2 separate regions of the Homo sapiens genome follow, and region 1 is linked to region 2. A link means that fine-mapping ties the variant in region 2 to the plasma level of a protein whose gene starts in the linked region. Region 2 holds a variant in brackets. A gene starts in the other region. All regions are shown on their forward strands.

Region 1 (4,395 bases), not on the chromosome of region 2:
ACATTCTCCACATCTGCTTATTGTTTTCTTGCCTTGTTTGCAGCTTCCAGAGCTCCTCCCTGCTTCTGTAGCAATTTCAGTCTTCCCCATTCCTCTGTGCCTTTGTAAACAGCCTTTTGTTCACTAACAAGAGGAATCTGCTGCCACGTCAGCTCTAAACCAACCTCCCACCATTCTCTGGGTAAAGTCCTGCTTAGAAAGGGAATAGGAAGAAGAGGGGTGGAGGGGGTTGGAGATGATTGTGTCTAGTGGGAACAGGCAGGGGGATAGTGCACAGAGTTCACAATGGGACAACGAGCCTGCCGAGGCTGCACTGCCGGCCTGGCTGGGTGACCTTGAGCCTATCTGGGCCTGTGAGCTCACCATGCAAAGGAGCTGGACCACAGAATTCTGAGTCCTTTCTAGCTCTAAACACTGTGGCCCTAAGTATCTATATGTGAAACAAAATTGTCCTGACATTTGTCTCTGGGTACTGAACTATTAGGAGATTTTGATTTTTTCATCTCCATTTTGCAAACAGTCTGTACTAAGATTACACTACTGTGTTTCTGTTTTGTGTGTATTCAGAAGCACAAAAAGTCTGTGGTTCTAGAAAGGAAATAGAAAAGTTCTTAAAAAAAAAAAAGTGGGGAAGTGAAACAAATGTTAAAGTCAGAGGAGAAAGAAAGGCCCAACCGGAGGCCCCAAATCCACCCAGAGCCCAGAAGCCCGGGTTTCCCACCGACCGGCTGCGGTCTTTGTCAGCTCTCTGGCGCTATCTGCTGTCCTTCTCGATAACAACCGTTTAATTTGGTTTGCAAAATTGCTCTGACGCAAATCCACCGTGAACACTGACGGGGTCACATTCAGCATAAAAATCGCATTCTGTTTACAGGAAAATCTGGCCCCATACTTGCTCCCATATTCACTTTTGACTTTGCCTTGCAGTACTAACTGTAACAGGGACACCTGAGCAAGTCCCTTCTGTATAAGGCCCAAAATGGTCACCCAATACCAATGAGTCTCTTGCTTTGGAAAGCCCAGGAATGCACCTCCAGCCCCTTCTGCGCAGCGCTCGGACACCATGTAGAGGAGAAGGCACTCTGCAGAACTCGCCCTCAGCCCGCACCACCTGTCCAGGGGACTGGCTGCGTGTCAATGTGTCTCTGCTCCCGGGGTTCCCGCAGATCTTTAACTTATTGGCCTTTGGGCTAATTCAGTCCTTCAAGCATTCCTCGCCCAACATGCCAGGAAGTCTTCTCACGTGTCTTCCACCCCATACCTACCAGTTCTGTTTTCCCACTACCCGATGAAAGTGTAACCGCCCCCCGGCGCCCCCCCCCCCCACCACCACACACACACCCTGTTGGTCCCATCCTCAGGGCGTGGTGGTCCAGGTGAACGCTTGCCCTCTTTTTGAGCTGAACCTCCCCACAGAGGCTGTCAGCAAAGACTGCTTTGCTGTCCAAGGCCGGCCTTTAGGTACAGGACACTATGCATGTCCAGCGAGGCTTGTTGAAGCCACATCTGTCATAGATATTGATGGGAAAAGCATTTTCCTTCTAACACATCTCATTCCAATTCTAAAAGGCACCTCTGAAGCCTTGCTGAACTTCATCAAGATTTTCACGTGGTTTCCTTAGTAAAGTGTGATGAGAAGGTCCATCCTTCTCAGGATGAAGGAGTGGTCCAGGAAGCCCTGATTGGTCTGCCGGGGAGGGAAGGGCTGCCTTATTTGGAGACCTGCAGGAATGCCACCTCCCCCGGCAGCTCCTATATAGCTGGGCGGACCTGGCTGCCAAGAGGGTGTGCTGGGGGACTGTGCAGCTCGAGGCTCCAGAGGCACACTCCAGAGAGAGCCAAGGTACGTGGGGGGCCACTTCTGTGGTCAGGACTGCTGGTTTCTTATCAAGGCTCGATCCCAGATTGAAAATCATGCAATGATTTCTTTACTCCCACACCTGGGGATGGGTCCCAAGTTCAGGGTAGACTTGCGAGGATACCCAGTCATCACTGGGCTTGCCTTTCTCTAAGTTGGTGCTATAATAAAATGCTACTTTAGGGTTTGTGGGTTGGGATTTTGTTTTGCCTTTAAGCTTCTGCCTATGAAAACTAATCTCTTTCTCAAGAATGCTGTGCTTTTATTTTTTTTATTTGACTCACCTGAAATGATCTATTATGCCATTAATCTTATTTAAGATTTCTCCTTAAAAAAGGAATGATGTGGAGTATGGCCCTATTTAGGAGACTAATGAATATTTGCTTCATGCTTGGATCTCTTTGGAGAAAGTCAGTCTGAGTTCACTGTGCTCAGGAGGCAGAGAGAGTGGGGTGAGGGGGTCCAGATGCTCATAGCCACCCTGGGACAAAGACGAGGCGATGTCTACAAGCAAGGAAAGGTCAGTGAGGCCTCTTTGCAGGCTTCTAGAGATGACTGGATGTGCTTCTAGAGATCACTTCAGCTGTGTTTTGCCTTTTTTTTTTAATATAAGGAGCAATGTGGCATCAGAGTTGAACATTTTATCAGAGGAACATTAGCCACTTTTAGGGAAGCTGCAGCAGGGTGGTGGAGGGTGTGTGAGGGGCGAAACAAGCTCCCTGTCAGCCTCCTCCAGCTCTGGGGCCCCATGGCCTCACAGTAAGTCTTTGCCTAGGAGACAGCTTAGGCAAGCTCCGGTATGGGAACTCCTTCCATTTCCCTAATCCACACAGGCAAAGACCCAGGTGCTAGAATGCCCTGACAGTCGGCCTTGGGAAGTGGATTTCCTTGATGGCTATTGTAGATTCAGGAGCCGAATGTGACAGGCAACCTTAAGGTGTGGGGTGAGGGGCTTTTCCATGACATCAGTGGCAGCCCTTCGGATGTCCCAGGGCCACCTTGACCCGGGACCCTCCTGGTGTTCCCCCAGGCCCTCCTGTCTTCCCTTTCATCTCGTTTTCTCCGAAATTCCTCAAGGGCCCTGCCCTTTGCCCTTTGCCCAGCTCAGGGGGCATCATACCCAGTGAGTGAAAAGCACAGTGTGTGAGCACTGTCTTCTCCTGAAACCCAGATGGGCAGTGGGGCATGGCTAGTGGACACATGCAGTGCAGCATTAGACAGAGCCCAGTGCAGGTCTGCCACCTCCCCGCTGTGCAGCCTTGGGCAAATTACTTAACTTCTCTGAATCCCAGGACAACATTTATAACATGGGGATAATAATGTACCTACTCTATGTGAGAATTAAGTTAGGCAATGTCAGAGAAGAGCTTAACACGGTGGCAGGCATGAAGAAAGTATGCAATAAAAAGCCAGTAGGATAAGCAGATGGTCACACTGTCCCCCAGGGGTGAGATTGGAAAGGATGCCTGGAGCACACTTGACCCCTGGACATAGGGGAGGCAGGGGTCCCTTTGCTACGTTTCCATCTTTCCCTTCCTTCCTCCTCCTCTCTCTCTCATTACTGCAAAGCCCTTTAGGATCAGCAGCCAGTGAATTCCTCAGAATGGATGGCAGAATGCCCCCAAGACAGTGCCAGCTCAGAGCAATAAAGAACAAAGAGGGGAGATTGAAAGTACAATCTAAAGTCGGCACAGTGGCTCGTGCCTGTAATCTCAGCACTTTGGGAGGCTGAGGTGGGAGGATCACTTGAGCCTGGGCAACATAGTGAGACCCCGTTTCTACAACATGTATTTAAAAATTAGCTGGGTGTGGTAGTGTGTGCCTGTAGTCCCAGCTACTCCGGAGGCTGAGGCAAGAGGATTGCTTGAGCCCAGGAGTTCAGGGCTGCAATGAGCTATGATCATGCCACTGCACTCCAGCCTGGGCAACAGAGTGAGATCCTGTCTCTAAAATATGTGTGTGTGTGTGTGTGTGTGTGTGTGTGTGTGTGTATGTGTGTGTGTCTGTACATATACGTATATATATATGTGTGTATATATACATATATGTGTGTATATATGTATATATGTGTGTGTATATACGTGTATATATACATATATATGTGTATATATATACGTGTATACACACACACACACACACACACATATAGTCCATGCCCACCAGCATTTGATTCCAACTCTTCTATTGTATTTTCCTCCCAGGGATTTCTTGATTTGAAAGACTTGGGAGTATCAAAGAAAACCTACATGTATTAAGTCACCACTCCTTTATTTTCCCATGCGTATTCAAAGCCACTATAATTGCCCTTTGCCATTCTTACCTGTCTCGGAAACCGGGACCAGAGCCCTGAGTGAATGTAATCCTAGCAATAGCAAAGGAGCTCGGTGTTTGAGTTAACCCTGCACAACCCAAACATGGGGAAACAATTATGCTTTTGAGACCACATAAATAGCACAAGGATGCGATTCCTTCCTTAAAATCTCCTGCACTTGGGAGGGGGCAGGGGAGCCCAGGCAGGCCTGGTGGGGAGCTGACCC
Region 2 (4,395 bases):
TATGTTTTTGAAGACTTGGACAATATGAATAAGGACTCATATTAACCACTGTACGAAAGGCGCACACTCCATTGCAATGACAAAGCCTTCGGAAAACTACTTGTCACTTGCAGTGATCCATTGCAAATACAGTTTAATATATAATTTATATCTACCAGCTGGTGAGAGCAGAAAGGGAGCGATTCCACTCTATTTCTCTTTTAAAAGAGAGAGAGAAAGAAAGAGAGAGAGAGAGAGAGAGAAAGGCTGGCAATGTAGGATGTCACTAACGATAGTAAAATAGCTCAGCAAACAGTTCAATAAATGGTTCAATACTTGTGATACTATCCAAACAAAGACTCGAAGCCATTAATTTTAAAAAGTTCTGTGAATCTTCTTTGAACAGTAAATATTTAATCACGGCAATATGTAAGCTGCCCTCTCATATTTTATCTCCTAACCAGAACCGTGTAGTGAACCTGGCCTTTAATAACTTTGACCAGAGCGATATTTTGCCATTTTTCTCCTGCCATCAAATTATGAAGTGTGTCCAATCCAGCATGTTGCTATTTGCTACCTAATGCGCTCCTATTGATGCCTAAATATAGCGCTGGACAAATGAGCTCCGTAGGTGTGAACACTAAATAATGCCCAAACCCCACTTAAAAATACATATATACATGTGTGTATTAAATATATCAAATGATACATTTAAAATTCTAACTATATTTAATAACTACACTACATGTTTTTTAAGTACTATATAATTATATTATATAGTATTAAAGAAATTAAAGCTTCCGGGCATAGACTTTCAGAGCCAAGCAGTAAGAACGTGGAAATTTGCGCCTCAAAGCTTTCTAGCCAGCGTCTTTTTTTTTCCAGGCACACTCACTAGTTAGGAATGTCATCTTCGGCCAAGTTTAATAATTGATGAGGAGCCTCGCAGGTCTCAAAAGCTTATACAACCAAACAACTAATATTTATTTATTTTATTATATATTTTCTTTTAATTCAGGAAATACCCACAGCGATTACAATTCTAATTTGCAGGGAATCCTGTTGGCAGAAAAATCAAACAATTAACAATCCACCTTCTAAACAGACTACTGGTAACGGACGACTTCAGAGGCAGCCAGTCAGACACGAGCGATTGCGCTCCCCCCGCGCCTGGGCTGCCTTGGAGTTCAGATGAAAACAAGTTCAGGAAGTTGATTTGATGGGCAGCACCGACCAAACCACGACTTATGAGGCTTGCAGATGCATGTCAGAATTAGGCTGCTATGAAATACGGCGTGATCTGTTCCACCTTCTGTAAGTTTCTCAGAAGTGAGGACTCTACTCTCAGAAACAGCGTCCTCCCTGCCACAGCCATCAATGTGCATGTGGTCGACACACGCATTCACACACACTCACGGCTCATTAAAATGCGTTGTGAACTTGGCGTAATCCCCAGGATGTTTCTTCATTAGCTATTTTGGATGGCCTCTACCGCACACACATTTCAAGAGCCACGTTCCTTTAATTCTCAAATCAATACACTCTTAGCAATTGCAAGTGGCCAGAAAGGTCACCCTCGAACCCCTTCGGTCCTAGAAGAGTGGCAGAGGAGGGATAGGAAAGGACCCGTGCAAGATCACACAGCGAGAAGATGAAAGCAGTTCATCCTCAGACCTCTCTCTGCTCCATCAAAAGATAAAGAGACATTTGCTAAATGTCATTAGTAGTTCCTATATGTAAGTGGAAGAGCAAAGACAAATAAGACACAGTTATTATTTTTCAAGAGCTCATAGTCTAAGAGTGAGACTCAACCTTAAAAATAGGCTACAACCCAAGACATCAAATTTCAAGTGGGCCAGAAAAGGCACAGGGGTGGAGCGGGCAGAGCTAACTCCAGCCAAGGGGCTGGAGTACTGAGTACTGAGTACAAGGTCACTCTCCGTGGATACGTTGTAGATTGAGTGGAAGACACATGCAGACCTGGCTATTGTCAAGGAGAACCTGCCTTCCACATAGGTAGAGGAATGGACCACCAACCTCGGATGGAAATTCTGGTAGCCTTTTCCCATAAATACAGCATCCTTCTCTCTCTCTTGGCCTCTTCCTATGAACCACCTGATGAAAAAGGCAGTGATGTCAAGCAACTTCTGAGCTCACAAGAGAGATGCAAGGCCGGT[G/A]GCATCTGTGTAACAAATAAGCCTGTGTCCCAAGTCCCTCCCAGATCATCATCTTTCACAGTAGCTTCCAAAAAGAAACATGTTGCTATCCCATTGGAAAGGGCAAATGAGGTCCCAAGCCACTTACCCAAGGAGAATAAAAGGTGGAGTGGGCAAACCACCCAACCCAAGCACAGAGCTCTTTCCACTAATCCCCATGGGCACACCCTTGAGAAACTCTAGCCAGACTTGCTGTACTCGCCAAGTCACGCCCCAGCCCCTACAGTGTGCAGGGCTCTGCGGAAGGAAACACGTAAGAGTCCTGCACTCATAAGCTTGTGGTTTGCTTGGGAGACGTGTGAGCCTAAAGTTAACTATCTCTATTATATTTATTTTACATGTAGATAATATTTATATGCATGGAATATTTTCTTACATTATGTATGTGTGTATATACACAAGTGTGTGTGTGTGTGTGTGTGTATATATATATATATATATAGAAAGAGAGAGGTAGGGATGGAATAGGCATGGATGTGGAACGTGTGTATGGCAGTAGTGGTGGGAAGTAGGAGCAGGTCAGGACGCTCAGGGCACACGGATCTGACCACACATGGATCACCCAGCAGTGACACAGATACTCAGGTGATCAAACCGGTCTGGCAGAGTAGTGATGAGGTAAATGAAACCAGGAAAAGAAACCACAGAGCAAGAAGAAGGGGCAGCATCACACCTCACCTTTTCTGGGATGCAACCCCACTTCTGCTCAGGGTCCTCTCTCAGACCCACCTGCCCCAGCACTTCCAGCCCTCAGCAACATTTCTGTTTCCCTGAACTCTTGTAACACTTGGCGTTGCTTCCACAGAACTCAGCTCTGTCTTGCACGTTGTCTTCCCAGAAGTAAACACATATGTGGGCATCTCATGTCTGGGTCTCCTCTTTCTAGCGTGTGCTCTAGGGGAACACTCAGTAGTCTGGCAATGGCCTAGGATGGCCCAGACCAACCAATAGAGTCTCTACCGTGAATCTTTTTTTTTTCTTTTTTTTTTTGAGACGGAGTCTCACTCTGTTGCCTGGGCTGAAGTGCAATGGCACGATCTCGGCTCACTGCAACCTCCACCTGCCAGGTTCAAGCGATCCTCCTGCCTCAGCCTCCTGAGTAGCTGGGATTACAGGTGCCCACCACTATGCCCAGCTAATTTTTTTTTTTTTTATTTTTAGTAGAGACGGGGTTTCACCATGTTAGCAAGGCTGGTCTCGAACTCTTGACCTCGCGATTCGCCTGCCTCGGCCTCCAACTCTTGACCTCGTGATTCACCTGCCTAGGCCTCCCAAAGTGCTGGGATTATAGGCGTGAGCCACCGTGCTCAGTCTACTGTGAATCTTAATGCTAGCACCTGCTGCCAAGTCACTTGGCCTCTCCCGCTGTCACCTACCTCTTCTGTAAAATGGGTGAGTAATACAATCTACCTCACAGGGTGCTACAAGACAGTAGACAGAGCTCAGCCCATTGTGCAGCACACAGTAAGCACCCGACAAAAGAGAGTGGGTAACCCTGGCAGCTGCAACAACTGCACAGGTGATCGCAGCTAGTCCTCAGTTTCCCCATTTGTAGAATGGGTACTAAGGTGTCAACTCTGCAGAAGTTTCATGTGGAGAGAATAATGTACACAAGGAGCTTGGCACATAGTAGATGCTAAAATTATTTTGTCTATGAGCAGCAGGTCTATATATTTTATATCCCCAGAGAGCTTTGCTGAATGTAATAGACACTCCATAAACACTTGTTGATTTACTGAGAAAAGAATTCCTTGTACTAATTACATGCATTCACACTGATGCAAACTGACTCTACCTGTCCATTTAAAGAGAAAGAAACAAAGCATTAAGCTTCCTTCACGGCAAAGGAGCATCAAATCAACAAGCATCACATTGCAGAGCTCTGTCTGGCCAGGTCTTGGGATTCTCAATTGCACATTTGTGTATATGCTTCAGTCAGGAGGACTATTCAGTCTGCCTCACATCATTTTTAAAAGTTTGCAGGTTTTCAGGCTCCAAAAGTGTCATTATATTTGGAATGGAATTTTGCCTCCTCCACCAGTAATGTAATAAAATCTCTGAGTCTGAGAAAAAGTCAGGAAAGGTCAGATGTCAACCAGGTTAACATTAAAATTGTTAGAAAACAGGAACCGTAATTTGGGGATTGAAAAAGAGGCAGAATTCATGTTGTAAGTGCAAGTGATCTGGAAATAGATGTTTA

Direction of the effects. Alleles are on the strand shown, and positions count from the first base shown. The strength of an association depends on the size of the effect and on how common the allele is.
As copies of A replace G in region 2, the plasma level of the protein whose gene starts at base 1,783 in region 1 goes up (weak association).

What was found. A credible set is the group of variants that fine-mapping cannot tell apart. PIP is the chance, under the fine-mapping model, that this variant and not a neighbour inherited with it causes the effect. Protein levels are from antibody-based Olink assays in UK Biobank. Linkage for the fine-mapping came from a reference panel and not from the study's own genotypes, which makes the PIPs less certain.
Region 1: PRND starts here. The variant in region 2 is the best candidate, but not a certain one, in a credible set for the plasma level of the PRND protein (UK Biobank, PIP 0.56).

What each region holds. Positions count from the first base shown.
Region 1 is chr20:4,720,127-4,724,521 of GRCh38, forward strand. PRND (prion like protein doppel) reads left to right here and starts at 1,783. Exons shown (of 2, transcript NM_012409.4): 1 at 1,783-1,843. RefSeq lists an enhancer at 486-705.
Region 2 is chr10:129,034,363-129,038,757 of GRCh38, forward strand. It overlaps LOC124902559 (a long non-coding RNA gene), which reads right to left and starts at 2,391. Exons shown (of 2, transcript XR_007062390.1): 1 at 2,284-2,391; 2 at 957-2,094. RefSeq lists an enhancer at 1-549. The variant G/A (reference allele first, on the strand shown) is at 2,157.